Homo sapiens: one gene and its partners. Changing the gene in region 4 together with the main gene of any one other region gives a genetic interaction. Each region holds a gene or a part of one and is shown on either strand. Other genes may lie near its edges. The genes, in order: RTF1, PGK1, SDHC, NDUFB2, FH and ATP1A1.

Evidence for each region.
Region 1: changes in NDUFB2 (region 4) and RTF1 together harm fitness less than expected from each alone (positive genetic interaction), as found in Homo sapiens cells (one large-scale study listed by BioGRID).
Region 2: changes in NDUFB2 (region 4) and PGK1 together harm fitness more than expected from each alone (negative genetic interaction), as found in Homo sapiens cells (one large-scale study listed by BioGRID).
Region 3: changes in NDUFB2 (region 4) and SDHC together harm fitness less than expected from each alone (positive genetic interaction), as found in Homo sapiens cells (one large-scale study listed by BioGRID).
Region 5: changes in NDUFB2 (region 4) and FH together harm fitness less than expected from each alone (positive genetic interaction), as found in Homo sapiens cells (one large-scale study listed by BioGRID).
Region 6: changes in NDUFB2 (region 4) and ATP1A1 together harm fitness more than expected from each alone (negative genetic interaction), as found in Homo sapiens cells (one large-scale study listed by BioGRID).

The regions. Positions count from the first base shown.
Region 1 is NC_000015.10:41,461,006-41,466,215, forward strand, and holds part of RTF1 (RNA polymerase-associated protein RTF1 homolog), read left to right. Parts: intron 1-3,765; coding exon 3,766-3,880; intron 3,881-5,135; coding exon 5,136-5,210. UniProt on the Homo sapiens protein: Component of the PAF1 complex (PAF1C) which has multiple functions during transcription by RNA polymerase II and is implicated in regulation of development and maintenance of embryonic stem cell pluripotency.
Region 2 is NC_000023.11:78,124,748-78,129,957, forward strand, and holds the end of PGK1 (phosphoglycerate kinase 1), read left to right. Parts: intron 1-126; coding exon 127-304; intron 305-579; coding exon 580-678; intron 679-1,042; coding exon 1,043-1,083; 3' UTR 1,084-4,548; downstream 4,549-5,210. UniProt on the Homo sapiens protein: Catalyzes one of the two ATP producing reactions in the glycolytic pathway via the reversible conversion of 1,3-diphosphoglycerate to 3-phosphoglycerate.
Region 3 is NC_000001.11:161,355,068-161,360,277, forward strand, and holds part of SDHC (succinate dehydrogenase cytochrome b560 subunit, mitochondrial isoform 1 precursor), read left to right. Parts: intron 1-1,609; coding exon 1,610-1,773; intron 1,774-5,210. UniProt on the Homo sapiens protein: Membrane-anchoring subunit of succinate dehydrogenase (SDH) that is involved in complex II of the mitochondrial electron transport chain and is responsible for transferring electrons from succinate to ubiquinone (coenzyme Q).
Region 4 is NC_000007.14:140,694,386-140,700,393, forward strand, and holds the start of NDUFB2 (NADH dehydrogenase [ubiquinone] 1 beta subcomplex subunit 2, mitochondrial precursor), read left to right. Parts: upstream 1-2,322; 5' UTR 2,323-2,359; coding exon 2,360-2,457; intron 2,458-2,529; exon of another isoform or gene 2,530-2,692; intron 2,693-6,008. Other genes in the region: ADCK2 (uncharacterized aarF domain-containing protein kinase 2), read left to right, coding at 278-418. UniProt on the Homo sapiens protein: Accessory subunit of the mitochondrial membrane respiratory chain NADH dehydrogenase (Complex I), that is believed not to be involved in catalysis. Complex I functions in the transfer of electrons from NADH to the respiratory chain.
Region 5 is NC_000001.11:241,512,400-241,516,799, forward strand, and holds part of FH (fumarate hydratase, mitochondrial), read right to left. Parts: intron 1,315-4,400; coding exon 1,204-1,314; intron 1-1,203. UniProt on the Homo sapiens protein: Catalyzes the reversible stereospecific interconversion of fumarate to L-malate. Experiments in other species have demonstrated that specific isoforms of this protein act in defined pathways and favor one direction over the other.
Region 6 is NC_000001.11:116,382,559-116,387,768, reverse strand, and holds part of ATP1A1 (sodium/potassium-transporting ATPase subunit alpha-1), read right to left. Parts: intron 4,400-5,210; exon of another isoform or gene 4,216-4,399; intron 3,756-4,215; coding exon 3,645-3,755; intron 2,987-3,644; coding exon 2,927-2,986; intron 482-2,926; coding exon 278-481; intron 1-277. UniProt on the Homo sapiens protein: This is the catalytic component of the active enzyme, which catalyzes the hydrolysis of ATP coupled with the exchange of sodium and potassium ions across the plasma membrane.

The DNA of each region.
Region 1 (5,210 bases), on a different chromosome or scaffold from region 4:
GCTGGGATTACAGGCATGCGCCACTATGTCAAGCTAATTTTTTTTTTTTTTTTTGAGATGGAGTTTTGCTCTTGTTGCCCAGGCTGGAGTGCAATGGCACAATCTCGGCTCACTGCAACCTCTGCCTCCCGGGTTCAAGCAATTCTCCTGCCTCAGCCTCCCCTGTAGCTGGGATTACAGGCGCCCACCACCACGCCCAGCTAATTTTTGTATTTTTAGCAGGGACGGGGTTTCACCATGTTGGCCAGGCTGGTCTCCATCCACCTCCTGACCTGAGATGATCCACCCGCCTCTGCCTCCCAAAGTGCTGGGATTACAGGCGTAAGCCACTGTGCCTGGCCAATTTTTGTATTTTAAGTAGAGACAGGGTTTCACTATGTTGGCCAGGCTGGTTTCCAAGTCCTGACCTTAAATGATCCTCCTGCCTTGGCCTCCCAAAGTGCTGGGATCACAGGCGTGAGCCACCACACCGGCCTGGCTAATTTTTCTTTCTTTTTTTTTTTTTGAGACTGAGTCTCGCTCTGTCCCCCAGGCTGGAGTGCAGTGGCGCAACCTCGGCTGACTGCAAGCTCCGCTTCCCGGGTTCATGCTATTCTGCCTCAGCCTCCCAAGTAGCTGGGTTTACAGGCGCCCGCCACCACACCCAGCCAATTTTTTGTATTTTTAGTAGAGATGGGGTTTCACCGTGTTAGCCAGGACGGTCTTGATCTCTTGACCTCGTGTTCTGCCTGCCTTGGCCTCCCAAAGTGCTGGGATTACAGGTGTGAGCCACCGTGCCCGCCGGCCTGGCTAATTTTTCATATTGGCCAGGCTGGTCTGGAGTTCCTGACCTCAGGTGATCCACCCACCTCGGCTTTCCAAAGTGCTGGGATTACAGGCGTGAGCCACCTCTCCTGGCCCTGTAATTTTTTTTTCTTTTTTTTTTTTTTTTAGAGAGGGGGGGTTTGCCATGTTGCCCAGGCTGGTCTTGAACTCCTGGCCTCAAGCAATTCGTCCACCTCGGCTTCCCAAAATGCTGGGGTTACAGGTGTGAACCACCACCCCCAGCTTCAGTGACTTTTTTTAGTGACTATAAGAATGGTTTAGTGTGCTGATTATTAAGACAGAGGTTCAGAGCCATCATAGAAAATTGATATTTTAGTAGTTCGTTTGTTTAGCTTCAGGGCAGTGCAATATGGAAACTCTGGAATTTCCTGAATCTTTTTTACTTTAAAAGCTCTTTATATGGATTGCATTTAATCTTTGTAGTCTTTTTTATGTAAGCACCATTAGCATCCTGTTCTCTAGCCAGCAGCACCAGTAGTGAGATGTCATTTTCAGTTGTTAGATTATTCATGGGGGCAGGAAGCATAAAAGGTAGCCTGGTTGTAGAAAGGGCACTGACATTGCAGTTAGAAGGTCTAGGGGTCAAGTCAGACTCGCTGGAGGGGTGATCGGAGTTAAATCACTTTCTCTTCCTGCCTCAGCTTCCTCCTGGGGGTTGTTGTAAACCTCAAGAGAGATTATATACATAAGAACATTATGTAAATGTAAACTATCACTAACTCTAAAAAATAACTTTGTTTAAAATAACCCACTTAAAGTGTATAATTCATTGGTTTTTATATGTCCACAGAGTTGTGCAATCATCACCACAATTAATTCTAGAGCATTTTGTCACTCCTGTATTTCCCCATAAGCCTCCCAGCCCTAGGCAACCACTAATCTCCTTTCTGTCTCTCTAGATTTGCCTATTCTGGATATGTTTATTATTATTGTTGTTGTTATCAAGACAGGGTCTCGTTCTGTCACCCAGGCTGGAGTGCTGTGGCATGATTATAGCTCATTGAAGCCTCGACCTCCTGTGTTCAAGCAATCCTCCCACCTCAGCCTCCCAAGTAGCTGGGACTATAGGCGTGTGCCACCACCTGGCCAATTTTTTAAACTTTTATTAAAGAAGAGGTCTCGCTATGTTGTCCAGGCTATTCTTGAACTCCTAGCCTCAAGCAGTCCTCCTGCCTTGGCCTCCCAAAGTGTTTAGATTACAGGCATTAGCCACCATGGCCGACCTGGATATTTTATATAAATGAAATCATAATATGTAGTCTTTTGTGACTGACTTCTTTCACTTAGTATGTTTTTGAGGTTTATCCATTTAGCATGTATTAGTACTTCACTCCTTTTTATGTCTGAGTAATATTCCATTTTATGTATATACCACATTTTGTTTATCTGTCCATCTGTTGATTTATATTTGTGGTGTTTCCTCCTTTTTGCTATTGTGACTGGTGCTGCTGTGAACGTTTATATACAACAATTTGAGTACCTATTTTCAGTTCTTTTGAGTGTATACTGGAAAGTAGAATTGCTGGCTGGTACGGTAACTCTTTCTAACTTTTTGAGAAACTGCAGCTGCATCATTTTAGATTTCCCATCGGCAATAAGTGTACTAGTTTCTCCACCTCTTCACTAACACTTTAACACTTGTCTTTTCCTTTTTTTGTTGTTGTTGAGACAGGGTCTCACTCTGTCGCCCAGGCTAGCTAGAGTTCAGTGGTATGATCATGGCTGGCTGCAGCCTCAATCTCCTGGGCTCAAGCAGTTCTCCCACCTCAGCCTGCCAAGTAGCTGGGACTACAAGCATGTACCACCATGTCCAGCCAATTTTTAAAATTTTTGTAGAGACAGGGTCTCACCATGTTGTCCAGGCTAGTCTCCAACTCCTGGACTCAAGTGATCCTCCTGCCTTGGCCTCCCAAAGTACTGGAATTACAGGTGTGAGCCACCGTGCCTGGCCTCCCTTTTTGTGATAATAGCTATCCTGGTGGGTGTGAAATGGTCTTTCATTGTGTGTTTTTTGTTGTTGTTTGTTTGTTGTTTGTTTTCAAGACGGAGTCTCACTCTGTCGCCAGGCTGGAGTGCAGTGGCGTGATCTTGGCTCACTGCAACCTCCGACTCCTGGGTTCAAGCAATTCTTCTGCCTCAGCCTCCCGAGTAGCTGGGATTACAGGCACATGCCACCATGCCCAGCTAATTTTTGTATTTTTAGTGGAGATGGGGTTTCACCATTTTGGCCAGGATGGTCTCAATCTCCTGACCTCGTGATCCGTCCACCTTGGTTTCCCAAAGTGCTGGGATTACAGGTGTGAGCCACTGCACCGGGCCTGTTTGTTTGTTTGTTTATTTTTTGAGATGGAATCTCACTCTGTCGCCCAGGCTAGAGTGGCGCAGATGAGTACAGCAATACCCTATATATGTTCTCTTTCTCTCTCTTTTTTTTTTTTTGAAACGGATTCTTGCTCTGTCGCTAGGCTGGAGTGCAGTGGCGCGATCTTGGCTCATTGCAACCTCCCTCCCGGATTAAAGCGATTCTCCTGCCTCAGCCTCCCAAGTAGCTGGGACTACAAGTGTGCGCCACCATGCCCAGCTAATTTTTGTATTTTTAGTAGAGACGGGGTTTCACCATGTTGGCCAGGATGGTCTCGATCTCTTGATCCCCCCGCCTCGGCCTCCCAAAATGCTGGGATTACAGGTGTGAGCCCCTGTGCCTGGCCCGTAGTCTCTCATTTTAAACATATTCCAACTTAATGCTATCAAATATTTTATATTTTGTTGTAATTAACATATTAAATATTTTTAATGTACTTAAAAGGTACACCAGAGTTTCTTGCAGGAAAGCCAAAATATCTATTAGCTCCTTTCCCTTAGTTCCTTTCTCCTATCTAATAGAAATCAGTTTTTATATACATTTCATTGCTACTTAAAAACCAAATATCTTTTAACCAGATTTGAAATCAAGAAAAAACTAAAAACAGCCAAAAAGAAAGAAAAGAAAGAAAAGAAGAAAAAGCAAGAAGAGGAGCAAGAAAAGAAAAAACTGACACAGATTCAAGAATCTCAGGTAGGAGATTCAGTGTTCCTCATTGTCCAAAGAATAAACCTGTTTTGAGTGTGTGTGTGTGTGTGTGTGTGTGTGTGTGTGTAAAAGGTGGATTTATATTAATCAGCCTAAGTTTATAAGACTTGTGACATGGTTTCATTAATCTCTGGACATATCACCATTAGCTGTGCTGTTAAATCCTTAGCACTTTTTCCTTTGCTTTCCTTTTTCCTTTTCTTTTTTCTTTCTTCTTTCTTTTTCCCTTTTCTTCCCCTCCCTTCCTCCTTCCCCCTTCCCTTCCTCCTTCCCTTCCTCTTCCCTTTCCCTGGTCTCATTATGTTGCCCGGGCTAGAATACAGTGGCTATTCACTGGCACAGTCATAACACACTGAAGCCTCAAACTCCTAGTCTCAAGCAGTCCTCCTGAGTTGCTGAGACTACAGGCATATGCTACCGTGCCCGGCTTTCACTGAAGTCTGCATTTAAAAAGCAGCCCTCAACTGCAGTGACTCACATGTGTAATCCCAGCACTTTGAGAGGCCGAGGCAGACAGATCACTCAAGGCCAGGAGTTTGAGACCAGCCTGGCCAACGTGGCGAAATCCTGTCTCTACTAAAAATACAAAAATTAGCCTGGCGTGGTGGCTTATGCCTTTAATCCCAGCTACTCGGGGGGCTGAGGCACAAGAATTGCTTGAACCTCAGAAGCGGAGGTTGCAGTGAGCTGAGATCATGCCATGGCCCTCCAGCCTGGGCAGAAGAGCGAGGCTCTGTTTTAAAAAAAAAAAGCAGCCCACTAGTGAGTGACCATCCCTTAAGGAAAAGTTGGTAAACAACCTGTCCTAGGTAGCCAGATGCTTATGATGTTTACTTAGATGTATATCATCCTTTACTTGGTATAAATATAGCTGGGAAAATAATCTCTGTATTTATCATAAATGAGACTCCATCTCAGAAAAACAACAAAAAAAGATAATGTGGGGCTGAGTGTAGTGGCTTATGCCTGTAATCCCAACATTAGCTGTGTTGTAGTGTGTTCTTCCAGAAAGAGTTTATTCGGATAATTCTTGAACTTGGAATAGGCATTTTAGACAGGGCTTACTTTACTGCGCTATCCTCTTTGTCCACAAGAGGATGCTCTCTCCCCTTACATAAAAGCTCTAAGTTTTTGCAGCCCATATAGATTGATGTTGGAGGACTAAATGCATTAAGTAGGTTTAGAGAATCTTATCAGCTGTTGGTAAAAAGGGCCATTCTATATATCCTTCCCTTCCTAGGTAACATCCCACAACAAGGAACGGCGTTCCAAGCGGGATGAGAAACTAGACAAGAAATCTCAAGCCATGGAGGAG
Region 2 (5,210 bases), on a different chromosome or scaffold from region 4:
ACTGAAGGGTACTATTTGTTTCTAGAAGAAACTTTGGTGTGCAGCCCTGAGTTCTGGTCTTGGTGGAGGTGGTGTTTAAGTAGCTTTTCTTGATAGCTCATCTTCTCTTTCACCTCTACCCCTCAGGGCTTGGACTGTGGTCCTGAAAGCAGCAAGAAGTATGCTGAGGCTGTCACTCGGGCTAAGCAGATTGTGTGGAATGGTCCTGTGGGGGTATTTGAATGGGAAGCTTTTGCCCGGGGAACCAAAGCTCTCATGGATGAGGTGGTGAAAGCCACTTCTAGGGGCTGCATCACCATCATAGGTAAGCGGTCCTATACAAAGCTAATACCCATATAAGCTGGCAGAATTCTGATCAGAGGAAGGTGGAATGGAGAACTTCTTCTATGTCTCTTTATTCTGGGTAAATGTTAAGAGGTAAACAGGTAGGTAATTTACAGAGGAGCCTCTTGGTAAGATAGAGTTGGGGGTTTATCAGCTACCTTTTGGGTTGGGGAGCACACTGCCTTACAGTTTTGGTGCCAATCCCTTTTTTTTCTTTTCTCTCTTTTCCCTTTTTACCTGGCTTTCATTCAACAGGTGGTGGAGACACTGCCACTTGCTGTGCCAAATGGAACACGGAGGATAAAGTCAGCCATGTGAGCACTGGGGGTGGTGCCAGTTTGGAGCTCCTGGAAGGTGAGGGTCTTCTGTTTTTTGGCTTGTTTGGGATAAGGGTGGACTGTGCAGTGAGAGGTGGGTAGAATGGAGTGGAGAAAGTTAGAAGGTAGTGTTGTCATTAGCAGTCATTACTACCTGGGCAGTACAGAGGAACTTCAGATAAAGCTCCTGGCATCCACTGAGGCGGGGAGGGACAGATAGAAACTTGGTCTGAGAGTTATGGTCTAGTAGACCTGGAATCCACAATGTAAAAGTTGGCCAGCTCCTGGCCATATATCCTAAAAAAGAGCTGGCATGTTATTGGGAAGATAAAGTGGGGGAAATCTGGCTTACTGGGCCCTATAGTAATGCTGTCTATGTATGTGTGCTCTCTCAAAAACAGGTAAAGTCCTTCCTGGGGTGGATGCTCTCAGCAATATTTAGTACTTTCCTGCCTTTTAGTTCCTGTGCACAGCCCCTAAGTCAACTTAGCATTTTCTGCATCTCCACTTGGCATTAGCTAAAACCTTCCATGTCAAGATTCAGCTAGTGGCCAAGAGATGCAGTGCCAGGAACCCTTAAACAGTTGCACAGCATCTCAGCTCATCTTCACTGCACCCTGGATTTGCATACATTCTTCAAGATCCCATTTGAATTTTTTAGTGACTAAACCATTGTGCATTCTAGAGTGCATATATTTATATTTTGCCTGTTAAAAAGAAAGTGAGCAGTGTTAGCTTAGTTCTCTTTTGATGTAGGTTATTATGATTAGCTTTGTCACTGTTTCACTACTCAGCATGGAAACAAGATGAAATTCCATTTGTAGGTAGTGAGACAAAATTGATGATCCATTAAGTAAACAATAAAAGTGTCCATTGAAACCGTGATTTTTTTTTTTTTCCTGTCATACTTTGTTAGGAAGGGTGAGAATAGAATCTTGAGGAACGGATCAGATGTCTATATTGCTGAATGCAAGAAGTGGGGCAGCAGCAGTGGAGAGATGGGACAATTAGATAAATGTCCATTCTTTATCAAGGGCCTACTTTATGGCAGACATTGTGCTAGTGCTTTTATTCTAACTTTTATTTTTATCAGTTACACATGATCATAATTTAAAAAGTCAAGGCTTATAACAAAAAAGCCCCAGCCCATTCCTCCCATTCAAGATTCCCACTCCCCAGAGGTGACCACTTTCAACTCTTGAGTTTTTCAGGTATATACCTCCATGTTTCTAAGTAATATGCTTATATTGTTCACTTCTTTTTTTTTTATTTTTTAAAGAAATCTATTTCATACCATGGAGGAAGGCTCTGTTCCACATATATTTCCACTTCTTCATTCTCTCGGTATAGTTTTGTCACAATTATAGATTAGATCAAAAGTCTACATAACTAATACAGCTGAGCTATGTAGTATGCTATGATTAAATTTACTTATGTAACTTTTATTGTCTTTGGCATTAACAGTGTTTCAAAAAATTTTCTGTGTATACCCATCAGTGATTCATTCCCAAATCTTCTAGAAGCATAAGTGTCTCAATATATTAAAACATATTGAATAATCCTTGTTAGAGTTATCCCTGCAGGAGTCCTTAGTGCTCCTTTATCCAATTTGTACTTGATGCCCTCTAGGCAGGGTGTACAGCTAGCTGTTGCTCTGGTATTTCCTATAACCTTCTTGGGGATTTCTTTTACCTCCTGTGTTAGACTCCTGTTTTCTGGATTCCCCCTTTTCCCTCTTTCTTGGTCTACTTTTTGTAGAACACAAGACTCTACTAGCTTCCTGAGAAAGGGTGCCTGGGAGGCAAAATCTCTAAGACTTTGTAAGTCTGAAAATGTCTTTATTCGACCCTTATACTTGATTCCTAGTTTGGCTATATATAGAATTTTAGCCTGAGTATCACTTTTTGAGACTCGAAGCCACTGTTTCATTGTCACTATTGAGAATCTAAATGGCCATTCGGATTCTTTCATCATCTTTATAATTTTACCTTCCTATTTCTTTCCTGTCCTTTTAATGGAGTTTTGGGAGAGAGCAGAGGTAAACATGATTTGAAAAAGCCATGTCTGACCAGAAATTCTGTGCTGGAAAGATATGTATTTCACCTTTAGGGACAAAGAAATAAACTTTTGGACAGGACCACAGAGCTAGTAAGTAACAGCAGGGATTCAAGTCCAGGTTTGTCTGGTTCCAGTGGCTGATGCTTTTCCAATGTGCCTCCGTCCCTGACATGATGCTTCTAGGCTATAGATGCTTCTAGACTCTATCCCTGACATGATGCTTCTAGACTATTTTGTTTAACCCTGGATAGAATAGCAAAAGAAAATTTTGGTGGTTGCTCTAAACAAAACAGAAATTTGAAAGCTCAAGTTTTTTCTTCATTTGTATTTTAGTTAATACTGTACCCATATTTGTAGTTAATTTTAAATTGTACCATGTTTCTGCATACCTCTATGGGTACTCAGGAATTCTAGTCCAATTTTTGTGACTTTTTCCTACTGATTACCTTTCCTCCAACGTTTTAAAAATTATTTCAAATGGAACTGAAAGAAGCATAAACTCCCATAAACCCAGCACCTAGACTCTACAATTGCCAACATTATCTATCCAACAATCTCTGACTGTACCTTTTAAGTACTTTCTACTGGACTGTTTCCAGGATCACCCCTCATTTATTTGGGTTGTTAACCTAAAGAATGAATGGGGGAATCTCCAGTCATAAACAACTTGTCAATTAGGCAAATATTTGAGTTCCTTCTATGTGCTTAAAGACGTGATAGAGGGAATATAAGAGCATTTATGTTCTGAAGGAATTTTTAACCTAACCAAAGAAGATAGTAGATAACTTGTGTGCATATAAGCTAGAACAGTATAAGGGGCCGGGCATGGTGGCTTACGCCTGTAATCCCAGGACTTTGGGAGGCCAAGGCGGGCAGATCACCTGTCAGGAGTTTGGGACCAGCCTGGCCAACATGGTGAAACCCCGTTTCTACCAAAAATACAAAAATTAGCCGGGCGTGGTGGCGTGTGCCACTGTAGTCCCAGCTATTCAGAAGGCTGAGGCAGGAGAATCACTTGAACCCGGGAGGTGGAGGTTGCAGTGAGCTGAGATCACGCTACTGCATTCCTGCTTGGGCGACAGAGTGAGACTCTGCCTCAAAACAAAAACCCCACAAAACAGTATAAGGATGTGCTTTCTAATTTGGAATTATGAATTATTGGTAAAATATTGCAAAGGTGTATGCTTTAAGTTGTAAATTCACCTTTAACCCTAGACTATATATGTGTGTTTATATGCAGAAAAAAATAATTCCCATGTCGTAAGTGAACAATTTGGTTCTTTAGCTCAGTGTTTTCCTGTTTTCTTCATTTCCAAAATTTCCCTCTAGCACAGGGGTTTACACATGATCAAAAAGGAGTATACAATGAAGACACCTTCCTCAGTCCCCTACCTACCAGTTTCCCTCCCCAGAAGCAACCTCTGGAAGACCAGTTTCTTTCAATCTAAGGCTATTTAATATACATTAAGAGGCCGGGCGCAGTGGCTCACGCCTGTAATCCCAACAACACTTTGGGAGGCCCAGGCAGGCGGGTCATGAGGTCAGGAGATTGAGACCATCCTGGCTAACACGGTGAAACCCTGTCTCTACTAAAAATACAAAAAATTAGCTGGGCGTGATGGTGGGCGCCTGTAGTCCCAGCTACTCGGGAGGCTGAGGCAGGAGAATGGCGTGAACCTGGGAAGCGGAGCTCGCAGTGAGCCGAGATCACGCCACTGCACTCCAGCCTGGGCAACAGTGAGACTCTGCATAAAGAGCATACCCATGTGTGTACCTATCTATCTATCTATCTATCTATCTATCTATCTATCTATCTGTATATAGATATATTAAAATGTAAATGGTGGCATACCTGCTGTTCTGTAGTTGATTAGTGTTTTCTTTCCTGCCTCTTGAATATTCCCTGTCACCTTGGATCCCTTAGAACATAGTGTGCATCACATCTTCCATTCTCACCCCGCCCCATGCTGGCTATATTCCTATATTCGTACTCAGATCATAGACACTTGTTTGCTACCCATAAAAGGAAGAACTGGAGGTAACAGTGTCCTCATCCCATTTACCATCAGCACATATTATTTTTTAAAAATTCCACCTAGAAGCTGAAGGACAACAGATTTAAACCCATATTCTTCTACTCATTTTCAATTTGCTTCACTATGATGGTGTCACATGCTGATTCCAGATAAAAGCAAGTGATTTTCTGATATATAACCATTAAACAAATCTTACTGGTCTTTGGCCATCAGAATTACTGGGCTTTGTTCATCTCCCTTGAATCCTAAAAAATGAAAACACTGATAAGCTCAAATTTTTATTAACCTTGGAACAAATGCAATAATTCCTTACAGTCATATAGCATTTTACAATTCTGAAAGAATTTTCACATATACCAATTGAACCCTCACAACAGCCCTGTGAGGTAGGCAGGGTAGGTGTTACTTTCCTACTGCTAGTGAGGAGAACAAGGCTAAGAGGTGAAGTAAGGTCACACAGTTGGTAAATGATGGA
Region 3 (5,210 bases), on a different chromosome or scaffold from region 4:
TTGGTGGTCGATAGCCACTGAGCTCCAACAGATAATGCAGCCCTGTCAGACATTAAAATATTCATACTTTTTCTTTCACATAGGGAAATAATCTTCCAAGTATATACACATAGCAGTTACATTATATCATTATGGTTTTGATTTGCATTTGTCTAATGGCTAATGATGTTAAGCACCTGTTCATGCACTGATTGGCCATTTATTTATCGTCCTTGGAAAGATGTCTATTCAGATCCATTTGTCATTTTATTGATTGAGTTGTAAGAGTTTTTTATGTATTCTGGATAAAAGTCCTCCATGATTTGCAAATATTTTCTCCCATTCCTTTGAGTTGTCTTTTCACTTTCTTGATGGTATTATTTGCAGCACAAAAGTTAGTAATTTTGATGAAATCCAATTCATCTGTTTTTTCTTTTGTCATTTATGATTTTGGTGTCATCTGTGAAACCACTGCCTAATCCAAGATCATGAAGATTTATTTCTATGCTTTCTACTAAGAGTTTTATAGTTTTAGTTCTAGCATTTAGGTCTCTAATTCATTTTAATTTAAATTTTTGTGTAATAGAGATTTGAATGATTTAAAATTTTTCCTCTCTTCAGAGGTAGCAACACTAGAAGATAAAGATAAAAAAAGGGCCAGGCGCAGTGGCTCATGCTGGTAATCCCAGCGCTTTGGGAGGCTGAGGTGGGCGAATCACTTGAGGCCAGGAGTTTGAGACCAGCCTGGCCAACATGGCAAAACCCTGTCTCTACTAAAAATGCAAAAATTAGCGAGGCATGGTGGCATGCATCTATAAGGCCAGCTACCTGGGAGGCTGAGGCACAAGAATGGCTTGAACCCAGGAGGCGGAGGTTGCAGTGAGCTGAGATCACGCTTACTGCACTCTAGCCTGGGCAACAGAGCGAGACTCTGTCTCAAAAAAAAAAAAAAAAAAAAGAGAACCTAATTTTTTTTCTGACTCTTCTCTGGACTGAGTACACTGTTTTTACCTTTTCTTAGTTAGATGATGAACTAGATGATATAGCAAGGCTTGATGTCTAAACTGGCAAGTGAAGTTTTTATAGAGACGGATGTTGAAAGGAGGAATAACATACTAAAACATATGGCACATTTAGTTTATGATGAGATCCCAAGTAGTCTGTCTCCCATCATAAACTTGAACATGAGTTTAAATCTTCTCCTTTTCAAGGCCGGGTGCAGTGGCTCACACCTGTAATCTCAGCACTTTGGGAGGCAAAGGTGGGCAGATCACTTGAGGTCAGGAGTTCGAGACCAGCCTGGCCAACTTGGTGAAACCCTGTCTCTACTAAAAATACAAAAATTAGCTGGGCGTTGTGGTGGGCACCTGTCATCCCCACTACTCAGGAGGCTGAAGCAGGAGACTCGCTTGAACTTGGGAGGTGGAGGTTGCAGTGAGCCAAGATTGCACCACTATACTCCAGCCTGGGTGACAGAATGAGACTCTGTCTCAAGAAAAAAAGAAAACAAAAATCTTCTCCATTTCAAAATGGTTTAGAATTGTATGAGGTGCCAGGGGTCCCAGTTTTATGTATCATATTAGTTGTAACTTATGAGCAGCTGTGACAAGCTACTTGGTTTTCTCCTCAGGGGTCTCTCTTTTTGGCATGTCGGCCCTGTTACTCCCTGGGAACTTTGAGTCTTATTTGGAACTTGTGAAGTCCCTGTGTCTGGGGCCAGCACTGATCCACACAGCTAAGTTTGCACTTGTCTTCCCTCTCATGTATCATACCTGGAATGGGATCCGACACTTGGTAAGTTAATTCGGGATTTGCACATTTTCTCTGTGAAGGGAGTGGGGAGACTGGGAGGATTCTTTCCTTCATTACTGGGTTTAGTGCTGTTCTTTTTTTTTTTTCCCAAGAGTGGAGTCTCGCTCTATTGCCCAGGCTGGAGTGCAGTGGTGCGATCTCAGCTCACTGCAACTTCTGCCTCCTGGGTTCAAGAGATTCCTGTGCCTCAGCCTCTTAAGTAGTTGGCGTTATAGACGCATGCCACCACTCCTGGTTTTTGTATTTTTAGTAGAGATGGGGTTTCACCATGTTGGCCAGGCTGGTCTCAAACTCCTGGCCTTAAGTGATCCGCCTGCCTAAGCTTCCCAAAGTGCTAGGATTATAGGCGTGAGCCACCGCGCCCAGCTAGTGCTGTTCTTAAGGTTAGTTGTGACTCAGAGTCCTCTTGGGGAAAGCCAGACAAGTTCACAAGTTCCCCTGTGTGTTACCTGGCAGTCCTGCTGGTGGTGTAGCTGAGCAATGGTATAGGCCTCACAGATACTTGCAGGGTCTCATTGGGAACTCTTCCTTTTTTAATTTAATTTAATTTTATTTTTTGAGACAAAGTCTCGCTCTGTCTCCCAGGCTGGGGTGCAGTTGGCGCGATCTTGGGTCACTGCAAACTCCACCTCTTGGGTTCAAGAGATTCTCCTGCCCCAACCTCCCGAGCAGCTGGGACTACAGGCGCCTCCCACCACGCCCGGCTAATTTTTTGTATTTTTAGTAGAGATGGGGTTTCCCCATGTTAGCCAGGCTGGTCTCAAACTCCTGACCTTGTGATCCACCCCTCTCAGCTTCCCAAAGTGCTAGGATTACAGACGTGAGCCACTGTGCCCTGCTGAACTCTTCATTTTTAAGAGGGATATTTAAAAGAGATCCCTGAAGGCATAGAATGCATGTTTATGACATAAATATTAATTGGTACCTATTTATGTGTCAGGTACTGTTGTAGACACTGGGGATTCAGTTATGAGCTAGATAACCATTGTTGCTGCTTTCATTCTTCCGTTCCTGTTGACCCAGAGTAGTGCTTCTGACAGGACTCAAATAGATTACCTTTTCTTATCTACACATTATATTGCATTTCTGTTTTGAGATGTTGGACAGAATTGGGCCAACTTTAATAGAAACTGGGTGCCAAGAATTCCAGGTTTCAATATTGAGGTTAGGAATCTTTTTTTTTTTTTTTTTTTTTTGAGACAGAGTCTTGCTCCATTGCCCAGGCTGGAGTGCAATGGTGCAATCTCAGCTCACTGCAACCTCCACCTCCCAGGTTCAAGTGATTCTCCTGCCTTAGCCTCCCAAGTAGCTGAGATTACAGGTGCCCACAACCACGGCCAGCTAATTTTTTTTTTTTTTTGGTATTTTTAGTAGAGACGGGATTTTGCCATGTTGGCCAGCCTTACAGGTGCCTGCCACCACACCCAGCAAATTTTTTTTTTTTTGTATTTTTTAGTAGAGATGGGGTTTCACCATGTTGGCCAGCCTGGTCTTGAACTCTTGGCTTCCCAAAGTGCTGGGATTACAGGCGCGAGCCACTGCACATGGCAGGAATCATTTAATAGATTGGAAACTGTCCATGTTGCCTCCTATGTGACCTCATCGTCTGCTCAAAACTGGTTTCTAAAATTAGCCAGGTATGGTGGTGTGCGCCTGTGGTCCCAGCTACCCGTAAGGCTGAGGTGGGAGGATCGAATGAGCCTGGGAGGCGGAGGTTGCACTGAGCCGAGATTGTGCCACTGCACTTCAGCCTGGGTGACAGAGTGACCCCATCTAAAAAAAAAATAGGCGGGCACAGTGGTTCACGCCTGTAATCTCAGCATTTTGGGAGGCCGAGGCGGGCGGATAATCTGAGGCCGGGAGTTCGAGACCAGCCTTACCAACATGGAGAAACGCTGTCTCTACTAAAAATACAAAATTAGCCGGGCATGGTGGCACATGCCTGTAATCCCAGCTACTCGGGAGGCTGAGGCAGGAGACTTGCTTGAACCCGGGAGGCAGAGGTTTCAGTGAGCTGAGATCATGCCATTGTACTCCATCCAGCCTGGGCAACAAGAGCGAAATTCCGTCTCAAAAAAAAAAAAAAAAATACAAAAATTAGCTGGGGGTGGTGGCATGTGCCTGTAATCCCAGCTACTTGGGAGGCTGAGGCAGGAGAATCCAGGAGGCAGAGGTTGCAGTGAGCCAAGATCATGCCACTGCACTCTAGCCTGGGTGACAAAAGTGAAACTCAGTCTCAAAAAAAAAAAAAAGAAAAGATTTTATATTTTGTAGTCTCCCTAGTTTTGCTTCCAAGAAGGCAATTAAAATTCAGTTCTTTCTGTATTTTCATTACTTCTGAATCTGAGTCAACTGTCAGATGGATGCTTTTGCCTTAATTTGACTTTTTATTACTTCCAAATCATAGCCTTAGAGACAAGCACTTTCTGGATTTCAGTCTGGTCCAATAGACAGTTTAATGGAATAAAAAAAATGAGAGACTAAATTACTTATTAAATTAAGTGTCTGTATCAACTGTTCCCTGGGGCAGTGTTCAGTTTGATTTAAAATGACTTTTTACTTCCCTGAGGGGGAGGCAGTAGAGAGGGAGGACATTTCCATTAATGACTTCCTATTCCACAGAACAAAGCTCTGTAAAGAAAATCAGCTGATCAGCTTCCTCTGTTCATATTTTGGCTCAGACAGAGACTTGCCCTATATTTGTCTTTGTCTCAATATGGGGGTAAGAGAGGGGAGGTTTTATAAAATTGCAGAACTTAGAGCTTTTCTGCCCTGGTTCTTGCCTGTGATGGTAATCTTTTTGTTGAGGGAAGTGAAGAACCTAAGGGTCCTTAAGTCTGCTTTTATTTTTTCTTCTAGCAAGTACTGGCTGTGAGTGTGGGACAGGATTTTGTGTTTTCTGTGACAGTCTGCAGTTTTTGGCCTCTGAACTTGATAGTTGACTTGCCAGAAGATCTAATGGGGGAGTGAGGAGTGAAAGAGTAGGATGTTATAGGGTCTGTGGCATTCTAGGGAATATCCCTGCCTACTACTGCTACCCAGTAGGACTCACTCTCTATAAAACATTGTCCTTATTTAAGCAAAACAACTCTTTGTGGAATCTGCTTGACTCCTAATCTCCTAGTTAGAAGCAATTTGAGGGTTGAGGTGGAGGCATCTTCTCATCTTGATTTTTTTTTTTTTTTCTGGGCTTCCATCTTTTCTCTGAACTGACTCCTAATTTAGGCAGTTTTACATTCAGACTGTGGGTGTATGTGTGTATGTGTGTGTTAAGGCGCCATGTATGTGGGAAGTGTGGAAAATGAAGACTGCTTTTGCCCCATGGGCTCATTTAGTGACTTATAATATAATATTAATATGTTAATATCCCTAAGACACAAGAGAGTCAAAATTAGTGTTTTGTTAAATGTGGGGCTGGG
Region 4 (6,008 bases):
ATTTGGTCATTCATTCATACACACATGGACACAAACCTAGAAAAGTATATTCCGCACCCCTAGATTTTTCCTTAGTGTGTCCAGTAGATGGGAGGCTGGGCGAGTAGGTGAGATGGTTGGGGAGATGACGCGGTAGAGAAGAGAATGTCAGGTAGATGGTAAACATCCCGTGGGCAGGTCTGAGGGAGGCTGAGAGTGGACAGCAAGGTGATTATCCAGAACACACGTCCCTGTATCAGCATGTTCTGAGATGAACTGTTCTGTTTTTCTGTTCCAGGTAAAGCTTGAGAGCAACTTTGCCTCCATTGTGTTTGCCATCATGGTGTTGGAGGGGCTTGGCCGCTCACTGGACCCCAAACTGGACATCCTGGAGGCAGCGAGGCCCTTCCTCCTCACGGGCCCAGTGTGCCCCCCGTGATGGGGCAGTGGCCTCTGTGGGCCCTTGTCAAGAGCTGGAGGCCACTCCCAAGAGCCTCTCCTATGGCAGCTGGGACGTTTTAAAATTGGGACACCAATTTCAAATGTAACCCTCCAGTGGTGGAAGGCACACCATGGCTTCCTCTGCTTGGTTTGAGGGTCTGTTCAAAAGCTTTGGGCCAATTAGGGAGTAAAAGGAGGGAAGGGGCCTATCCATTCCATTGTGGAAGCTGGGCCAGGTGCCAGGGACACTCTCCTTCAGGGAAAATGTTATGTGGAGGAGGACGAATAAATTTATTTTGTTTTCCTGTTTTTCTCATTTCTTGACCCGCTATACTCCCTGGTCAGATGGGTACTGCTGGTAGTTCCCAGACTTTGATATTCAGGTTAGAAAATGCCATCAAGTCCTACTGATCTGTGGCATGTGCACACACACACACACACACACACACTCTTTATGTATAAATATCATGCAGGTGCTACCTGCCAGCATAATATACACTTAGGGCAAATTTCATTGTACTTCAAATTATCTTCTTGGTAATTTTTAATAGATTTTGCTAACTCCTTGGTAACTTTTATTACAAGGTAAAACAAAACTGATGAAAGTGGCTGACATACCGGGGACGTGAGCAGAACGGCTTGGCCACTTCCTTAACATGGCCCCGGGTTCACCCGCTAGTCCGGAACTACAGTTTCTCTGCCACAGTGTCTGCGCCTGTCCACTTGCAGGCATTAATTTTGGTGAATATGAAGAGAGTTAATATAACCAGTGTGTCCTCTTCTCCATGGCAGCGCCCAGGGACAGACCTGCAGTGACCACCACCTGCCCCTCTCTGCCAGGCCCAACCACGGGCTTTCTTCTCAGAGCTGAGCTGATGTGGCCGTCTGGCTGACTAGGAGGGGCCCGGGGTCAGCCTGGAGGGGGGGTATTTGTAAAGCTTAATTTCTCTTTTTTTTTTTTTTTAGGTAAAATCACAGTTTATCCCTGCACCTTCATAGATTATGTTGCTCGTCTTAGAGACCACCAGGCAGCGAATGGAGTCAAGCCCTTGCGCTCTCCGAGAGTCCTGCCCTGACTACAGGACTAGTTTCTCCCATTCTTTCCTTCTCCAGGATAAAGTTCCTCATTCCTGTCTTTTAGTGAGCAGTATGGTTTAGGTGGACAGAGATTCCTTTGGTGCAGTTTTTTTCAAGGAGGTGATGTTATTTTTTCCTTCCCAGGTCTTGAGGGGACATTCAAAGCAGGCAGAGAGGGGTTGGGATGGCTCCAGATGGCTGGGAGGGAGAACACCAGCTGGTCACGCAGCCCCTCGTGCCAGTGCGCATCAGGTACAGTGTGGAGGCGGGAAAGGGACAAAAAGACGGCAGTCTCTTCCCTGAGCCTATGCCAACCCAGCCTTAAAGCCAGTGGATCGAATCAAGCCATTTGTGGCATTATCTATTGCTGCGTACGAACTTAGCCTGGCACAATGCCTGTAATCCCAGCTACTCGGGAAGTTGAGGCAGGAGAATCGCTTGAGCCTGGGAGGCAGAGGTTGCAGTGAGCCGAGATGGTGTCACTGCACTCCAGCCTGGGTGACAGAGCAAGGCCTTGTCTCAAAAAGAAAAAAAAAAAAAAAAAAGAATTATACACCACTCAGTTTTAGGAGGGGCAGAACACGGGGAGAGCCCTACAGGATCAGAGGGGCAACCAACAAGCTGTTTCAGAAGGCATGGGGCAGCTCAGCAACCATAAGTTATGCGTGGGCTTTGCTCTCGGGAGAGAGGTTTCCTGCAGCCGAAGGACTCACAGCTAATCTGGGTCAGGAGCGGCTGCCGGCTCCCCCACTCCTGGAGATGAGCGACTCTGTGACGTCACGGGAGGCGCGGGCGGAGCGCCGGGGAAGCGAAGTAGGCAGGGGCGAGGCGGCTGGGGACCGCGGGGCGGACGGGAGCGAGTATGTCCGCTCTGACTCGGCTGGCGTCTTTCGCTCGCGTTGGAGGCCGCCTTTTCAGAAGCGGCTGCGCACGGACTGCTGGAGATGGTGGAGTCCGTCAGTGAGTGTGGGGCTGGGGATGGGGGCCTCGCCGGCCTGTAGCGGACAGCGCGGGTCCCTGGGACGCTCTCACCTTGACTGGGGCGCCTGAAGAGGCCGCGTCCCGAGGCATGCTGGGACCTGTAGTCCGCGTGTCTCCTGAAGCCGCGACTCGAGGAGAGGGACCCCGCTGGCCGGAGGGAGAGGGAGAGACTTCGCTGGGCAGATGGGACACCGTGTGCAGGGCCGTCATGGTAGTAGGGGCCGCCTGCCCTCGGGAGACGCACGCGTGAATGCGGAGCGGGCTGAGCCAGTCGGCGCCGGCGCGGGCGGTCCAGGCGGAGGAAGCAGCGTGCGCGGCGGGTGTGGACGCTCCTGGAGCGAGGCGGGGGGCGGCGGCGGTGAGGCCTAGGGAGGGCGCGGTCCAGGGTCCCGGTGCCTGGCTGCGGAATTTAGGGTAGAGTCTGTTCGGCAGCCTTTAATCGGAGACGTCACGTGGCCGCTTTTTAATGCTGAAAAATCACTCTGGCTGCAGGGAGTGGAGGCTGTCGCCCAGAGAGAGCGCCGTCGGGTGAGAGGAGCAGAAAGCCGGAAGCCAACGCTGGGGCAGCCGTGGCGTTTAGGAGAGTGACAGGCAGAGCCGCCCGCGAGGTGGCCCGAGACGCAGACCGGAGGGCGGAGGGCTGGGGGTGCGAGGTAGGGAGCGGGTGCGAGGTAGGGAGCAGCTGCCGAAGCCGAGTTAGTGGTGTGCAGAGATTCCGTAAGAGCAGGACTGGAAAAGAGTCATGGATGATTCCAGGTCCCTTAGATCATCAGCTACACTTTACCAAGAGGCAGTGTGGGGTCGTGATTCCAAGCGGGATTCTGGCCGCACAGTGGCTGGGTTCAAATCCCACCTCTGCCACACTCCAGCTGTGGGACCTTGGAAAAGTTTCTTATTCTCTTAATGCCTCAGTTTCCTCACCCATTTGGCGTCCATTTGCAAGGAACTAAATGAGTTACTGTTATCTAAAGCGTGTTTGTGTGTTTTAGGAGATGGGGTCTAACTCTGTCAGGCAGGCTGGAGTGCAGTGGCGCGATCCTAGCTCACTGCAGCCTCTAACTCCTGGGCTCAAGTGATTCTCCAGCCTCGGCCTCCCAAAGTGTTGGGAATACAGGCGAGCCACTGCGCTTGGTCTCACTAAAGTGTTTAAAACAATTGCTGGTGCCTGCTAAGGACCGTACAAGTATTCTTTAACTGTTGTTGTTATTAAGGAACTGAGGCCCAGGAAATGAAAGGAGTGACTTGCCTGAAGTCCCACATGGATGAAGAATCTGGAGCTGGGGCAGGTGTGGGGTGGGCAGAAGGCAAAGCCCTGTGTGACTTGGGCAAAGACAGTGATGGAGAGCCATGAGCGACAGCCCTTGGTCCTGCATGAGGAGATGGGGGAATGCCGATCTTCCCTGAGGTGCTGGCTTGTTCGTAACACACACTTGTTTCAGAGTGTGTGATAATTAAGTGCATAAATGTTTATGGAGCATCTTCTATATGGCTGCTCCTTTCTAGGTGCTGAGGATATAGCAGAATACGAGAGAGAATGAAGTGTACATTCTGGAGAGGAGAGACCAGTAGAAAAGAAAGACCTTTTTTGAGTACTGTTAAGGGTTATGAAGAGAATACAGCTGGGGATTAATATGGAGAATGCGTGGTGTGGGAGTAGAAGGGATATTGTATTTGGGGATGGCGTGGGAATGCCTGGGAGTGTGATTTGAAGCGGGACCTGAGGGATGAGAAGTCAGCCATGCAGAGACCTCAAGGGAAGAGCCCGGTGGACATAAGAGGGCAGAGGAGGCATCAGGTGGAGAGGCCAGAGCCCGCAGGGTTGGCAGGAGGCCAGGCTGGAGTGGAGCGTAGGGGAAGAGTGGGAGAGACCAGGTCACAGGGACAAGTGTGGGGGCCGGATTAGAGGGGGCTTTGGAGGACTCGGAATTTTATTCTAAGAATCACAGGGAGCCATTGGAGTTTTAAAGCAGGAAAGTAATGTGGTCTGATTTATTTTTTAAAAATGTAACTTTGTCCAGGCGCGGTGGCTCACACCTGTAATCCCAGCACTTTGAGAGGCTGAGGCGGGCGGATCACCTGAGGTCAGGAGTTCGAGACCAGCCTGGCCAACACGGTGAAACCCCATCTCTACTAAAAACACAAAAATTAGCTGGGCATGGTAGTGTGCGCCTGTAATCCCAGCTACTGGGGAGGCTGAGGCAGGAGAATTGCTTGAGCCCAGGAGGCAGAGGTTGCAGTGAGCCGAGATCGTGCCACTGCATTCCAGCCTGGGTGACAGAGTGAGACCCCGTCTCAAAAAAATAAAAATAAAAATGTAACTAATAGAGTTATGGTGCATTTTTGTTTTTAAACTTGACTCTCAAACATTTGAAGTTGGAACAGCCATTATTTCCTTGGATGTTGTTTCTTCCCCATTCTCTTTCCTTCTTACAGGACTTGCTGATAGTGTCTTACTTCCTTATGTTTTTTGATCTTGAGCTTGTTTTCCCTGGAATTTCTTTGAGATCGTGCTTCTCTTAGTCTCTTGAGGGTGCCACCCCAATTCAGGCTCACATTAAATTCTCGGCTTGGGGTTTTTGGTCCACACAGGTCCAACGCAGGTAATGTGAATTTGGGTGCAAATCTACCTGAGGACTGGCTTCTGATAACAAATTCTTGTTCCCTTGTCCATGGAAGGTTTATTTCTTGTTCACCCTTTTACCATATGGGGTTGCAGCTTTATTCAGTGACCTCGTCATTAGCCTTCCCACCTTGGGTGGGCCCCAGGCTGCGTCTCTTTCCCCACACCTCATGTAGCTATCCTGGTGGAGGTTCAAGGGCTCCCGGTGAAGGCAGCTTCAGTGATTGATTGCTTAGCTTCCAGGCCTTGTTTTTACTTGAATTTTGCTCTTGGTGGATTCCTTCCTTTTGTGCCTGGTCAGTGATGTTTGTAAAAATCTTAAAAATCTCATCTAGCAGCAGAGTTGTTAATTTGGAGGGTTGTTCAGGGTATCTAGTTTGCCACAATGCAGTTCACAACCTGGTTTGGAACATAACATTGTGAATTAGGTGTTGAGTCTTTGCATTCCTTAATCATGGCAATCCTTGTCATTGTTCCTGTGATATAATTGCAGACTTTCAAATCTTTGTTCCAAAAGGTTTCCATTTTGCAGTCCCTACTTCAGGTTATGATTAAAACAACATGTCACTCTAGCAATAACGAAGCGTGGGGAGCTGCTAAGATGGGTTTGAACTATAATGCTGGCATCGGCATTACTCAGATCTTTTTTGTTTTTTTGATACAGAATTTCGCTCTTGTTGCCCAGGCTGGAGTGCAATGGCACGATCTCAGCTCACCACATCCTCTGTCTCCCAGGTTCAAGTGATTCTCCTGCTTCAGCCTCCTGAGTAGCTGGGATTACATGCATGTACCACCATGCCCAGCTAATTTTGTATTTTTAGTAGAGACGAGGTTTTTCCACGTTGGTCAGGGTGGTCTCGAACTCCCGACCTCAGGTGATCCGCCTGCCTCGGCCTCCCAAAATGCTGGG
Region 5 (4,400 bases), on a different chromosome or scaffold from region 4:
GCTGGCAAATACGTTTAGTCTCTAGATATATTTGTTGCTGGTGCTCAGCAGGAATATCCAACAGATGTTATTGCCAGAGTCAGCATGCTAATGAGCTAGTAACTTGAAAATGTGAGTTCACTAATAGCTACTTCATTGCACAGATGTCCAATGAGCAGTAATCACCAAATGTAGAAATAAACGCTGCCCAGATTTGCCCCTATTTTTGTTGTATTTTTATACATCCAGCTTATGTGTTAGTTTTTGGATGGTGTGCTTTGTAAAATATGGGTGGTTAACAATCTTCTGGAATGATTTTAGCTTAAAAAATCAGAATGCACTTGAGAAATCTATTACCTTGAACAACTGGTCCACTTTAAAATAAAACTTTTTTCTGGTTATATAAAAATATGTGATTAGTGTAGAAAATTTTGAGAACTGAGAAAAGTAAAACAGTCACTATAGTTCTATTGCTCAGTAATTATGACTATTAGCATGTTGGCATCCCCAGTCTCTATCTCATGCAATGAGGGTGTGTGTGTGTGTGTGTGTGTGTGTGTATATGAGAAACACACACTTTCTGTTCATTTTTTCCTAAACAAAATTAGGATCGTAAAATACATATATTTTTGCAAACTTTCCTCCCTATTTCTCATAGGCTAGGCTTTGTGCATGCCAATCTTCAAAAAAGTAATTTTCTATAATTTACCATATAAATATAATTTATATAAGTAGCTGTTATAGTTACGCATTGTCTAATTTGTTTTCATTATTATAAATAGTGCTGTAATTAACAACACTATATATACAGTTCTGTTACCTCTGATTGCTTCTTTAAGACAATGTTATTAGCATATTAGTAAAATTACATTCTCAATATGCATTATCAAATAATCAACTGGTTTTAAAAAGATTTATATATAAAATAAAAAATCAAGTAAAGTTCAAATGATATCTTTTCAAAAAATTTTCTTAAAACTATATAAATTAAGGAAAGTCAAAAGGCTTAAAAACAAAAGGTATAAAATCATCCAGAAATTTTGTCACAATGTAACGTTTTAAGCACCATATTAATATCACCACTAAAAATAATGCTACCACCCTCCCCTGAAATTCATTAATTCAAGAATTCACAGTTCCCCTTTCCTTCTGCCAGAGCATATCGTCATCCAGAGTATGGCATGGGTCTGAGGTTATTAAGCAAACACACTTATCACCTCCTACCTCATCTGCTGCCTTCATTATTGCATTAGCAATCTTTGGATCAAGACCATAATCCTGGTTTACTTCAGCGGCCGCTCGCTTCAAGATGCCAAAAGCTTTAATAACTGGGGTCTAAAATTAATCAGAAAAATATTTCAAATTTACAATTTTACTTAAGCATGGAAGTTTATTATTTTGGCAGATGCAAAAGCTATACATAAAACAATAACAATAAAACAGTAACACTATAGCTCTAAAATGTTTCGGTTATAGAGAAAGATTATAGACAGGAATTCATGAACCAAGAATCAACATTATCATAGATCTATTTGTTTAAGGAACCAAATAAAAACAAATACATTGACTCTTCATATATATATGTGTGTACGTCTCCCACATACATATACACACATATTCACACGAATACAATCCTATGCACAAATACACACAATAAATTATATGTGTTTATTTCATATACTATAAATAAAAACAAATTTAGTACTCAATCTTTTCACCAGCAAGAACCATTATTTTCTCTTACTGGATCCCACGTTACATTATAATTGTTTCCTTCCCCTCTTAAAAAAATAAATAAATAAGGGATATATTTAACTGCCAATCAGTATGAGACTACCAGTGACTGACTGGGTTATCATTTCACCCCAAGGCCAAAAAGCAATCTATTCTACTTAGCTAGTAAAGCCTTAATACTCAGTAACTCCCTGGACATTTCTCTCAGAAGAATTATTTTTTTAAACCCAAGATTCTCCAGACCTAAAGGTGACAGCTTCCGATATATATAAAACCCCATTAATGCAGATATTTTCATTGTCTATCCCAAATCACCTCACCAAGCTTGAAAAGGATAAACTGAAATGAAAACCTAGTTTTTATAAGACAAGTGAATTGTGAGTTCTTGTCAAAATTAATAATACAGATTGTTGTATAGATCCCACACCAGGTTTGAATGGGGAAAGAGTAGAAGGGAGAAAGGGAAGAAAGGAAGAGAATGATGAATGTATAAGAGAGAACCTGCTATCTCTGGAATCAAAGTAGAAAAAGCCAAGAAAAGTAAGAAATAAGACACATTAAAAACATAAACCTGGACCAGAGTAAGTATAAGCTGAGGGTCAAATAGAAAAGGAAAACCAGAAAATTTGAAATTTCAATTTTAAGTAACTAAAATTAAAACATTAGAAACGTTTGACTCAAACGAAATGAGGACAGATGGCACACAGGATTAGAAACTTAAAAACTTTAAACACAAAAACAAATGGGAATTTAAATCTCCACAGTAACAAACACTGAGGTAGTGGGCTGAACCACTACCAAGGGCAAAGGTGAATGCCAATCAACGCTGGCCATCTGAATGGAGTGAATGACCCCCAGTGTTTATGGACCATAAAAATAAAAAAGGGTCATTCACAGCAGAAAGAGGTTCAACGAACACCATAAAATGGCAAAATGTATCACTAGAGAGAAAAGACAGGTCACTTTATTCTTAATTTATTCACATTAGATGTTCATAATCTTTTTAGCTTTGTTTTCCTCTGGACCTCAAGTAAAAAGGGTTGAGTTTAATCATACTACTCAGTTTAGAGTACATACAGACTGTTTTACACATAATAAAGTTCAGAAAGTATGACAAAATCGAGACCCCAGGTGTCTGCCTTTCACAGGTGTGCAATCCCAATGGCTGTGCTGTCTCTGGAGCAGCAGCAGCAGGAACCATGCCCCACCAGAACCACAAAACATGCTGGTGACACAGATCAATGAAAACGGCAGCCATGCTCACTCCCACCAACACTAGCTGGGGCTGACCTCCTCCTTAGTCTCTGGAGTTGAATAATATGAGATTATTTTAGGATTGGTCACTACCCTTTTTCACCTAACCACGTAGTCAAACTATGTTTACCTCACCACCAAGAAGGCTGTAGATGGCAATGACAAAGATATTCTCATCAAAGATTCAGCTGCCTGTTGTAAAGTTCTATATACCTGTCAAGAGGCAGTCTTGAAGGCTTAGGAATGACTTAAAATTATTGAAAATAAAAGCATATTTATAAGATAAGTGTTAAACAATATCTCACAGGATGAAGCCTATCTACTTCTAGGCTTACTAGCCTATCCTGCATTGACTATTTTTCATACTCCGGTTGGGCTCCCGTAGAATATGTTATGCATTTCTCAATTCTTTTCACACTTTAACATCTCTGAAATCAAGATGTATCTTGTAATCAATGGTAAGTCACAACCTTAATTGGTAGCATTTTTCTTTCTTAGTGGTGCCTATTGGTGCATCTTCTAATTAATGGCATCTTAAATTTAATTGAATGTGGTAGAAAGTTTTCTCATCATTTAATCATTCATATGGAATTGAATAAATACTTATATATTATCTATTATATGTCAGACATGGTTAAGAGTAATACTTTGATGTGTTTGTGTACTATACACTTTTTAGGAAACTGAAACCAAAATACAAAGTGTAATTTTAAAAAATCTCAGTTTTAAATTAGTGGGGGAAAAAAGAATGAGTATTGAAATAAAAATATTTACAAACTGTAGAACCCTAGTAAAAATCTGTAAATACCCAGCAAGAGTGAAAAGACAATCATTTAGTTCTGCCAAATAAAAATCCAAAATAACTATTCACAATAGCAAAGACATGAAATCAACCCAAATGTCCATCAATAAAGGATAAAGAAAAAGTTGTATATATCCACCATGGAATATTATGCAACCATAAAAAAGAATGAGATCATGTCCTTTGCAGAGATATGGATGGAGCTAGAAGCTGTGACCCTCAGCATACTAACAGAGGAACAGAAAACCAAACCCGCATGTTCTCACTTGTAAGTGGGAGCTGAACAATGAGAACATATGGACACAAGGAGGGGAACAAAGCACACAGGGGCCTGTGGGCGGAGGGGGAGCAGCAGAAAAAATAGCTAATGCCGGGTTTTAATATCTAGGTGATGGGTTGAGAGGTGCAGCAAACCACCATGGCACACATTTACCTATGCAACAAAACTGCATATCCTGCATGTGTATCCCGGAACTTAAAATTAAATTAATTTTTTTTTTTTTGAGACGGAGTCTCACTCTGTCGCCAGGCTGGAGTGCAGTGGTGCGATCTCAGCTCACTGCAACCTCCGCCTCCCGGGTTCAAGCAATTCTCCTGTCTCAGCCTCCAGAGTAATTGGGACTACAGGCGC
Region 6 (5,210 bases), on a different chromosome or scaffold from region 4:
GGGTGGCGGCCGGGGCCTGAGCAGAGCTGCCTGCTCACAGCAGCACATGCAGGTGGGCATCCCACTTGTAAGAGCATCTACAACGTGGGTGGTAGAGAGAGGAAATGGAAACGAAGGAAGAATGGATGAGCCTTGAAGGCAACAGCTGTTCATAACCATTAAGTAATGAGTTCATAACCATTAAGTAATGAGTGGTAATTGAGAAGAAGTGGGAGACAAAGACGGAGAAGATATCTGATGTGTACTACAAATCCATATGCTGAATTACAGAACTCACATTATCGTTTTGAGGTTCCTCTTCTGTAGCAGCTTGGATGCTATAAGCCAAGAAACAAAGAATCGCTCCAATCCACAGTAACATTGAGAACCCCCCAAAGAGCTGCCGACAAAACTTGATCCATTCAGGAGTAGTGGGAGGGGGAGTGAGGGCGTTGGGACCATCTCGCGCCAGGATCTCAGCTGCACGAGCAGATGTTAATCCCTGAGAAGCAGTGGAATATAAATAAGGCAAACTGTACCAGCACTTACAAGGCAATATACCTACCTGGTAGCTGGACGGTTGCAATAAGGATTTAAGGAAGAAACAAAATGTCCCAAGCTAGAGAGCCAAGGTAAAACCTAGCAAATTCCTCCATGAATAATTCTGCTGATGAGCCAGTCCCCACAGGGTTCAGGCAAACAATAGGCCCAAGGAACTCATAACACCCAGATTAAAACTCTTTAAATTGATCCATCAATAAATTTGAATTCAGCCTGGTTTCTTCTAAGTTTTAGATCAAGGGATTAATGCCAAATTGCATTTCTGCCAAAAAGGTATCTATTTTCACAAATCCATTCAGTTTTGCAAATTAAGAGCTTTGGGTTTTCTGTGTATTGATTTTGTCGGGAGGGGAAAAAAAACCCCTCTACAAACATCAAAGGAGAAAAAAACTTCCTGTAGAAATCCTTTGGGTTAACAGCCAAGTTTTAAATATACAGCTTGATTCTTTGCTTGTCTGGCAGGGAAGGGCTCACCTCCATGTGCATTTTAGCCACCTCCCAATAAACCTGTTGACTGAAAAGTACTCACTGGAAAAAACCACTCTACTAAAGCCTGCTATTTTTCTAATGGGCCTTAAACCCAAGATTCACTGACAGCAGGCAATTACATATAAGCTCTCATTAAGAGAGGAAAATATGATCACTTTTATACTCTCAAAATAACAAGTCAAAAAAAAAATAAAATATTTTTGTCTAAAGTATCTATTTATCTGTGTTTTGTGCTCATGTTACCAAACATTTGAGTGCTATCTACATGCCAGGAACTGAATTCAGTGCTTTAATTAACTTGTTTAATTCTCATGACAATCCTTTTTTAGGCATTATTAACCTCATTTTATAAGTAAAGAAATAGACCCGCAGCATTTGAGTAATGGGCATAGGTCGGAGAGAGCACACTTCATTAAGACTCTAATAAAAACTTAAGTGAGATGTGAAGTGGCTAGAGACTGCCTGGCACAAAGTAAGCACAGAGTCACTGTTGGCATGTTGTTCTGAGCTGACTCGAGGCCTCCTCTTGGAGCTTAAAGTGCTTGTGTCAAGAAAAACGCTCTCAACCTTGTTCTTCTCTCCTTTTTTTTTTTTTTTTTTTTTTTTTTTTTTTGAGATGGAGTTTCACTCTTGTTGTCCAGGCTGGAGTGCAATGGCACAACCTTGGCTCACTGCAACCTCCACCTCCCAGGTTTAAGCAGTTCTCCTGCCTCAGCCTCCCGAGTAGCTGGGATTACAGGCATGCACCACCATGCCAGGCTAATTTTGTATTTTTAGTAGAGACGGGGTTTCTCCATGTTGGTCAGGCTGGTGTCGAACTCCTGACCTCAGGTGATCCACCAGTCTCAGCCTCCCAAAGTGCTGAGATTACAGGCATGAGCCACCGCACCCGGCCTCTTCTCTACTCTTACACCCCAACAATCAACACAGAAGATGACTTCTGTGAGCAAAGGTGTGGCGGTTTCTCCCCACCACCAAGGTTTCCTCCAATTCAATTCCAACACTATCTACCTGGAAAATCAGAAAAGTGGAACAAGATTAGAGTCCTGCCTTGCGACAGGTGAAAAGGAGGGCAGGAGAGAGATCCTGTTTCTTGAAGCCTGCCACTGAGGTCTAACACACCCAACATTATAACAAACGACTGTAATAAGGGCTATGGGAGTTATGAACCAGGAACTGTGGACAAAAACCAATATATATCAGAATACCACAGTACCCATGTCTCTTGATGCCTTACTGAAAAAATGCTACATATTGGCTTGCTATTCAAGTTATTCCCAGACATTTCAGTGATTATCTGGAAATAAGACATCCCTAGACTATTTACTTTTATAACATTTGTTACACATTTAATATCAAAATCCTCTACATAACAAGGATACATAACGCCTATTTTATGAAAAGGTTTCTTTAATTTTTGTACAAAACAATTTCCAACTAAATGATAGAATAACTAAACAAATGATAGTATAACCATAACACACTGCAATGGGCTAGCTGGGAAAAGTGCAAAAATGGGAATTGTTGAAGATTCAACTAGGTGAAAGATTCAACTCTATTTAACAAATGTAGAAAAATAAAGGGAAAATTTATCATCAAAAGGTCAAGGCATAAGCATGGCTTTGAAGCCAACTGCAAGTCCTGGTGTTCCCACTTACTGGCTCTCAACTGCTATAAAATAGGGAAAAGAAAATAACATCTACTTTCAAAAAGTTTCAGGGAAAAGAAACGGTAGCATATAAATGCCCAAATTCTGTGCATGTCACATGGTAGATACGCAGATGGTGTCTGTCATTTTCTTACTAGAGCCCCTGAGGTTAGACCTGTATGTAATACAGGGGAAAATATAATACGGAAAACTAGGATTTTGTACAACAGCTTTCAAACTAGAACATACCCGGCTCAAGTCTGTTCCATATTTACGATGAAGTTCATCAAGGCTAAGTTTATGATCATCCTAAGGGAAAACAGAAACAAAGAAAATAGTTAAACAGTGTAGTATAAAAAAATGACAGAAAAAATAGCATTATTCATTACTATCATTAAGCTTATTAAACAAAGTGCAGATGTTTTCTTCAGTGCATAAGTTGGTACAATTTTCACCATCGCTTTGTGGCTTTGCAACCACACAGTTATCATTGACAGCTCTTCACTGGAGAATGGCTAAAGCTGAGTGACCGTGGCCCATTACTATTTGCCATAACACTTCAGAGAAACCCAGCAGCTCTCAGGGATCTAGTAAAACCTTATCTGCCTTCTCTGATGACCAGGTCGATTCTAGACAGGTTAAGTCTATGGAAGCTTCCATCGCCTGGAGAGGCTGAATTTCCCAATGTTTGATATAATACAGAGAAAAGCAAAGACTCATGGTATCAACCTAAGTTCCTTCTGTTATCTCTGGTTATGCCAGAGTGACTGAATAACTTTTCCTACCCTCTAACAGCTTTTAAAAAGTATATGTTCAACATTAACCTCTACGACTAGATGAGATCTGTACAGCTGCTATGATCTCTTTTAATATATAGCAGTTCTTTGAAGAATACAGTGAGGCCTGGGGGATTAAAAATCATGGATTTTTAATAAGGATGGAATACAATATTCCTCCTAGTACTTACCATAGAAACTTCTTTCTTCAGTTCATCCATGTCCCTGTCTTTTTTGCCCTTTTTGCCCTTTTTATCACCTTGTTCTGAAACAGCTGCAGGCTCATACTTATCACGTCCAACCTGTAGGAGAATGTGGGAAAAGTGAGGCCATGAATTATGAACCTCATCTGAAACTGAAAATTCTGGAGCAGGGGATTTTGGTAGTTTTTAAGGTAGTCATAATTTGGAATAGTCATTAAGATAATAGTCAGGAAAATGTATACCCATATATTGCCTACTACATAAGCAAAGCAATCTACTATTAATACATTGGCTCAAGATACATTCTCTCCATCCAAGAGCATTAAGAACAATACTGAAGCTACCGGTAGGCTTCAGAATGGCCCTGCCAGTGCCACTTCCTTTTGGGGTTAATGAGGAGATTTTTGCTATCAAAATCCCTATTCTGCAGCCTTCCATCTTCCCTACTGAAAGAATGAAACTAACTTTACATTATTAACTTAGAGTGCAATATTGTGCTTATGAGTCCGCATTCTCAATCAGACAGCCTTGAGTTAAAATCCTGGGCTTTACCACTTACCAGCAGTGTATCCTTAGGCAAGTTACTAACTTCTACATTTCAATTTCCTCTTCCACAGCGTGGAGATAAAGAATAGTGCCAACCTCATTTCATGTTTTTAAGGATTAAATGATACAATACATCTAAATGCTAGTACTTTTATACTGTTTATATTCTTTGCTTTGCAAAGACATTATTACATATCAAATTTAAATATCTTTAGTGCTCACATAAGAACACTGACCTTTACCAGCTTCCCATATTAAAAAGTCAGCCTAAGACTCCTTAAAATTCTTTGCATAAGAGATAAAAAAGGGAGCGCCCAGCCCATTCTGTAGCCTGAAAATAAAACCTCCAAAATGAAAGTCTCTGGAAATGTTTTGACATAAGCAGGATGTAGGAAAAGCGTGTGCATTATCACATAATTCACAGGATCCACCTACGCCTCTTGAAAACTGGAACAATTTTTAAAGAAAATGTTGATTCTATAGTTTAAATTTAGATTGTTCCACTCCCCCACCCCTGTTGAAAAATCCTTGAGCTTATCTACACAAAGCCTGAACTTGGTGCTCCAAAGCTTAGCGGAGCAGAAGAGCCCCTTGTTCCAGACACCTCCCCCTGAAGCAGCCTCCCACAACTACAACTTAAGGCCAAAAAGTAGACATTAGCAATTTTCTTAAAATGCATGACATATGGTGCTATTACTATTATTTTGTGGTTCTCCTTTACTCATTTCTAACTTTCCTAAGTGCATTACCAGCTACTAAAGCAATAATTAGGAACTCGTGTCCAGATTATAATTTCACTGTGCTGAAATGAAAAAAGAAAATCAAAACGTATTATGTGTGTTTCAGTCATAACTAATAGTTGCAAATAAAATACATTGTTCACTTAAATTTAAAAATATCCTCTTAAGACTCCAAGGAGAAATCCTTCTCCAAATTCACTGGAGTGGGCCACATGTAGAGACACATTATTTACCTTTTTAACTTCTGTGGTCACGTGTGCAGCACTAC